Homo sapiens: one gene and its partner. The protein of the gene in region 2 interacts with the protein of the main gene of each other region in a biochemical or structural test. Each region holds a gene or a part of one and is shown on either strand. Other genes may lie near its edges.

Region 1 (3,971 bases), on a different chromosome or scaffold from region 2:
AGGCTGAGGTGAGAAGATCGCTTCAGCCTAGGAGCTCGAGGCTGCAGTGAGTTCTCATCGTGCCACTACATTCCAGCCCAGGCAACAGAGCAAGACTCTATCTCAAAAAAAAAACAGAAAACAATGAAACACTACTACCTATTGGAATGGGTAAAATCCAAAACAATGATAACATGACATGCTGGAAAAGATGTGAAGCAACAGGAACCCCCACATCCATTGCTGGTGGGAATGCAAAATGGTACAGCCACTTTGGAAGAAAGTTGAACAGTTTCTTACAAAATGAAATACATTCTTACCATACACTCCAGCCATCATGCTCCTTGGTATTCACCCAAATCAGCTGAAAACTTATGTCCACCCGAAAACCTACACATGAGCACTTGAATAGACATTTTTTCAAAGAAGATATACAAATGGTCAATAAGTACATGAAAAAATGCTCAACATCACTAACTGCTAGAGAAATGCAAATCAAAACTAACATGATACCACCTAATACCCATTAGGATGGCTACTATTAAAAACAACAACGGTTGTGTTAAAAAGGATGTAGAGAAACTGAACTGCTGTGCGCTGCTGGTGGAAACGTGAAGTGATACAGGCGCTGTGGAAAGCAATACGGTAGTTCCTCAAAAAATGAAACACAGAATTATCATATGACCCAGCAATTCCATTCTGGGTATGTACCCGAAATAACTGAAAACAAGGTCTCAAAGAGGTATTTGTACACCCATGTTCGTAGTAGCATTAATCTCAGTACCTAAATTACGGAAGCAATCCAAGTGTCTACTGATGAATAAATGGACAAGCAGAATAAGGTAAATACACACATGGGAATACTATTCACCCAAAAAAAAAAGAAAAGAACTTCTGACATGCTACAACACAGATGAAGCTTGAGGATAAGTGAAATAAGTCACAAAAACACAAAATATGATTCCACTTACATAAGGTACATAAGAGTAGCCAAAATCATGCAGACAGAAAGGAGAATGAGGAGTTATGGTTCAATGGGTATAGAATTTCAGTTTTGCAGGATGGAAAGTTTCGGAGATGGATGGTGGTGATAATTGCACACTATAAATGTATTTAGTACCACTGAACTGTATACTTCAAAATGGTTAAGATGGTAAGTTCTGTTACATGTATTTTACACCACAATAAAAAACTCCACACATCAATGTTTACAGCAGCTTTATTCATAATCACCAAACCTGGTCCTTCAATAGGTGAATGTACATCCAGACAATGGAATATTATTCAGTGCTAAAATGAAATGAGCTATCAAGCCATGAAAAGACACGGAAGAACCTCAGATGCATACTGCTAAGTGAAAGAAGCCAAGTTGAAAAGGCTACACGCTATATAATTCCAACTACGGGACATTCTGGAAAAGGCATTGCGATGGAGGTAGTAAAAGGATCAGCGGTTGCCAGGGGTTGCAGTAAAAGTGGGAGGAACAGGTGGAGCAGAGAGTTTTAAGGTGCGGAAACCAGTCGGTATGATACTGGTGGAGACATGTTGTTATACATTTGTCAAAACCCACTGAATGTACAATACCATACGAGCAAACCCTAACGTAAACTGTGGGCTTTGGGCAGTGATGATGTGTGAATGCTGGTTCACTGACTGTGCCAAATATACCACAGTGATGCAGGATGTTGATGAGCAGGAGGCTTGGAGAAGAGGGGCATGAGGAGCATGGGGTATATGGGAACTCTGTACCTTAGGCTCAGTTTTGCTGTGAACCTAAAATGCTGCAAAGTCTATTAATTAAAATGAATAAAAATTTCTAAAAATCATTAGAAATAAGAGAGTGACACTCAACCAACACATACTTATTTCATACCTATTTGTTCAAAGCTCTGTAAAACAGAATAGTATATTAAAGAAAACCAAATAAATGAAAAAGAAACTTCAGATGGAAGTGCTATAAAGGAAAATAAACACACTGAAGGGCAGGAAGTTAGATGCGGAGTGGGGGTAGGCAGAGGTGATCATGAAAGATCTCTTTCAAATATGGCCTCAGTGACATTCAGGCAGAAGAAATAAAAATCTAAAGGTCCCAACGTGAGAACAAGCTTCTCAGAAACAATGCTACCTCTTTGTCTTTGGCAGATTAGGAAGATTTTTACATTAATAAGAATTATTAATAACGACTATAGTTCTTACTAGGACTAATAAAGACTAAGTCCTATATTTAGTAAGAACTATTTATAAAAACTGGTAATTCATACAAATAATCTTAGTCATTAAATTTAATCAATAGGTTATGTATAAAACTCTGTATATTACCAACAGAAAATGTTCTAAGTTTTCATAGAACATTTTCCAAAATGGATTATGTTTTAAGTCACAAGAAACACTCAATAAGTTTAAAAGATATTTTAAAAGATTATAGAAGCTGACAACAATGAAAGAAAATATGAGTGAATAGAATTATCCTAAATACCTCCTGAGTCAAAGAGGAAATCAAAACTAGAACCACCAGCTATTTGGAAAATACTGAGCAGAAGAACATTGTCCATGTAAATTAGAATGTGCAGCCAACGCTGCATTCAAAAGCAAATTAAGAACATTAAAGGTTTTTATTATTAAAAGACATTAAAATGAACTAGCTTTGCACAGTGGCGGTATCGTAGCCAATGAGGTCTATCCGAGGAGCGATTACCGCTCATCGAAAACACATTAAAGGAACTAAGAATTCATTAAGAATTAATAACATTAACATTAACTTAATGTTAACATTGTTAACAACAAAAAAAAAAAGCAGGAGAGCAAAATAAAGAGAAAAGTAGAAATCAGGCATTCAGAAAACAAACAAAAAAAAACCAATACAATAAGTAAATCTCAAAGCTGGTTAGTAAAAAAAACCACTAAGTAGACAAACATTTGGCAAATTCAGAAAAATAGTGAAATCACTAATAAAAAAAAGGAAATGAATACCACAGATCTTAATGACAAAAGATTATACACACCTATATAGTAACAGATTTGAAAATCTAAAAGAAATGATCTAGGAAATACGAATTATCAAAAGTGACTCATGAATAAGGATTCCTGAATAGGTTATAGAAGTTAACTACAGAAGTTATCATAAAGGCCTATCCTTTTTTTTTTTTTTTTTAATGAGACAGAGTTTCACTTTTGTTGCCCAGGCTGGAGTGCAATGGCACGATCTCGGCTCACTGCAACCTCCGCCTCCCGGGTTCAAGCGATTCTCCTGCCTCAGCCTCCCGAGTAGCTGGGACTACAGGCACCTGCCACCACACCTGGCTAATTTTCTATTTTTAGTAGACACAGGTTTCTCCATGTTGGTCAGGCTGGTCTCAAACTCCAAACCTCAGCTGATCCACCTGCCTCGGCCTCCCAAAGTGCTGGGATAACAGGCATGAGCCACTGTGCCCGGCCTATTCTTATTAATCTAAATTTATATGAGATTCTCCTCTAACCTTTCAATAAATTCCGTACGCAGGACTAATATGAGTGGGATTTTGGTTATTCACGATATATACCTTGTGATACCTTTGATTAATAGCAAATTTACTATTACATATCCTCAGCAATAGTTAAAAGAAGAAAACCATATCATCATCTAAATGTTACAATAGCATCTCATAAAATTCAGAAGCCATTCCTATTTTTTGTAAAGCAGAAACAGAATAAAATAATAATCTTTCTCTAAATCCAACAGCTGCCATCATCCCTAACTGTAAAAATATTAATACCAGAGTCATTTCAAGACAACGACACGTCTCTTGTTTAACCAAGTCTTGGAACTTCAGGCCAATGTAATAAAGACCTAAAACAGGGTTAAGGGCTGGGCACGGTGGCTCATGCCTGTCCAACACTTTGGGAGGCTGAGGCAGGCGGATCACGAGGTCAGGAGATCGAGACCATCCTGGCTAATACGGTGAAACCCCGTCTTTAAAAAAGAAAGAAAAAGAAAAAAAAAAAAGGTTAAATAT
Region 2 (3,079 bases):
CTATAACACTGTCCCAGAGACAGTCAGGGCTCAATAAATTTGAGCTACCATCATCATTCTTTCTCATCTCTTACTATACCCCAGGGACCCAGCCTGTAAATGAGCATCCACCCCAAGGTTTCCAGATGGCTCTAGTTCTGAAACCTGTGTTGTCATGCACTTACCCAGTATTAATTTCCTTCTCAAATGCAGTCCTCCGCCTCCTTCTGGACCCCTCCCCTGCACAGCTCCCTGCTCTCTGTAGGATCCAGACGTGGGACTTTGCTCCCATCCTCTCTTGCTGCTGCCTGACAAAGCTACTCACCTCCTTTGGGCCTCATCTGAAAAACCTGAGAATTCCTCCAAGAAAAGCCACCACTTGGGAGCCGGTGACAAGATCCAAGAGCTGGACCATAAGTCCACTGGACCTCAGACCCCTCTTTTCCTAACTCTTTGGCATTATGTTTGGTCTTTACTAGAGTGACCTGGCTTGGGTGGTCTTGCCATCTCTTTCTAAAGGTGAAGAAAGGAGGTATGACACTCCACTATTCAGATTCGTGAGGAAGACCAGGGCAACTTTTTTAACATGCTGGTAGCCCAGGGTTTGGCACCTAAGGAACAAGAGTCATGGAGATTCTTGAAGAATCTTCTCATAGATGAGGTGGGGAAATTTGGCATTGGGCAAGGGCATCACCAGGCTCCTTCACATCACTGCAGCCCCTGGGCCTGCCTTCCTTCCAGGGAGCTTCCTGCCCAGTCCTGGGCCCAGGAGAGTCAGCCAACAGAATCAGGCAACAAGGCTTATTCGAACCAAGAGAACATTTTTTATTGTCAGTAAGAAACAGCAACTCTTCAGAGATGATTGGCTAGAAAAGAAACTGGTTGGTTGTATAAAAAAATGTAAAGTACAAAACTGTTAATCTAAAATAAAATTAAAAAGAATATTTAAAAGGCTTCCTTTTCTGTTAAGTTCTGAGACTTAATAAATGAGATAAAAACAGTTTCTTACACCTAAGAAACTGGGTTATGAAAGCTGTGCCTAGGATGTTGGGGAGAGCACACTGGGAGAAGGCATTCTTGCTGGTACCTTGAGTTCAGGAATCTACGTTGAGGCTTCCTCATCCACCATGATCACAGCCCCAGGGGATGCTGGGCTTGTTAGCATTCAAGCTCTGGGACCTGATTGGCCTCTCTGTCTCCTCTAAGTAAGGACAACTGATGGGGACAGTCTCCCACTCTCTGAGGCTTCGATGTTCCACGCATGGCTTTCCTCTTCCAGAAACTCCCCTCCCTGGCTCTCCCATGCAGCCCTAGTCAGCAGCAGCTCACAGGTCCGTGGACAGCGAGTCTGGGATCTGTTTGCCTTCTTCAGCCGATTTGCTGGCCAGCTTTTGAGAGAATAAACAAGCACAAAACCAAGATGCGATTATCAGATTAAGCACCAAAATGGAGCTTCCCAGTCCTAATCACAAGGGCCTCAACACTGACCCCTGCCCAAAGCCCAGTGAATGTGAGCTGCTATGCCCTTGGCTTTGGCCAGAAAGGCAGTGGTAGACAGTAGAGTGAGCCCAGGCTCACTAGCCATGTGGACTTGGGCACCTCACTTACCAAACCCTGTGAGCCTCCCATATAAAATCCTAAGAGTGGGAGCTCAAATGGCACCATGCTTGGGAAGTGCTTAGCATGGTGCCTGACTCATCGTGTGCTCATGGTAAACTTGAGATATTTGTAGTAGCAGAGTCCTGATTTCATATTACCTTGAGGATCAGATGTGTTATGGTACCTTCTTGATCTTGAGCAAAGGCCAACAAGTAACAATAGGAGATGGGACTTGCAGAATCAGCGCTTGGAAACTAATGTTCAATTTGTAGGATTTTGTGATATAGGTTGAATAAAAAAGGGCTGGAGCACTAAGGGGCAGTTTAGGCGAGGGTAGGCCACCTACTGCTTCTGAGGTCCCTGGGTCCTGCACATCCCTAGCTGGGGTCAATCCTGGTCAGAGGAGCTGCCTGAGGCCCCAGAGGAGAACTGCCCTCTGGGCATTGCTGCACAGTGTCCCAGAACTCAGGGCCTCCTGACTATGCCTCCCTAGGAATGACCACATATGCACACACAACCCCCCATTTTCTTCTCTCTGCATTGCTCTCTTCCCTTTCTCCTCCCAATGCCTTCCTTTCCTTCCACCCTCAATGTCCTCACCATTGTCTTGAAGAACTGATTGACCTTCTTCCGTGTGAGTGTCTTCTTGTCACCATCTGAGAGTTGGAGGAAGGTCTGGCTGAGGCGGGGAGATGTGTTGGCCTCATCCAACCCAGGGATGCCTGCCACTGAGAGCGCCAGGGCTGGAAGGAGAGCAGAGCTGGGGTGTGAATGGGTGGGTAGAGGAGGGGCAGTGCCTTGGGGGAGGTAGACAGGGGGAGGGCTGGGGGACAGAGCCAGCATCCAGGGATCACACATTGTATGTGCCAAGCAGGAGGCAGGATGCCTATTTCCTGCCGTGCCAGGGGACATTGAAGCTGTCCTCTTGCAGTGAAGATTGCCCACCCTACAGACAAGGGTTCAGCCTCCTGGCTCCTGGTCAAAACCTTGCCCCAAAGCCCTGACATCCCCAGGAAACAGAACCTTCTGCTCCAAGGCAGGGGACAGTGTGAGCTTACTCTTCCTCCAGCTCCCAACACCAACACCCTGGATTTCTCTCCCCATTGCAGGAGACAGCGGGAAGAGAGTCTCAAACCCACGTGTCACCTGGTGGAGGGGCCAGATGACCTAGTGGTTACAGCCCCAGCTTGGCGTCACAGAGACATGAAAAATTAGTTACTCTCTGACTGCTGGTTTTGACATTGGCCAAATGGGAGAAAGAGCCCAGACCGCCAGGGTGTGGTGAGACCTGCTGAGCAGATACCAGTGAAATGGCTTGGGCCAAATGTTGCAGCTGTGTTCAGGCTATCCTGGGGGTGGTGGCGGGGCAGTGGGTAGGTGCCTGTTCCAGGGAAGAGGGCCTGGGTCTGAACTCAGTCTCTGCCATTTGCTGGCTGGTGATAGGCAAGAGAGTGATGTTCTCAGTGCCCCAGTTTCCTCATCCATACAATGGGGTGGATAA

Evidence for each region.
Region 1: the proteins of DOCK2 (region 2) and PAK2 form a complex in vitro, tested with the Homo sapiens proteins (one study listed by BioGRID).

Annotation. Positions count from the first base shown.
Region 1 is NC_000003.12:196,745,973-196,749,943, reverse strand, and holds part of PAK2 (serine/threonine-protein kinase PAK 2), read right to left. Parts: intron 1-3,971. UniProt on the Homo sapiens protein: Serine/threonine protein kinase that plays a role in a variety of different signaling pathways including cytoskeleton regulation, cell motility, cell cycle progression, apoptosis or proliferation.
Region 2 is NC_000005.10:170,081,084-170,084,162, reverse strand, and holds the end of DOCK2 (dedicator of cytokinesis protein 2), read right to left. Parts: intron 2,322-3,079; coding exon 2,179-2,321; intron 1,368-2,178; coding exon 1,305-1,367; 3' UTR 781-1,304; downstream 1-780. UniProt on the Homo sapiens protein: Involved in cytoskeletal rearrangements required for lymphocyte migration in response of chemokines. Activates RAC1 and RAC2, but not CDC42, by functioning as a guanine nucleotide exchange factor (GEF), which exchanges bound GDP for free GTP.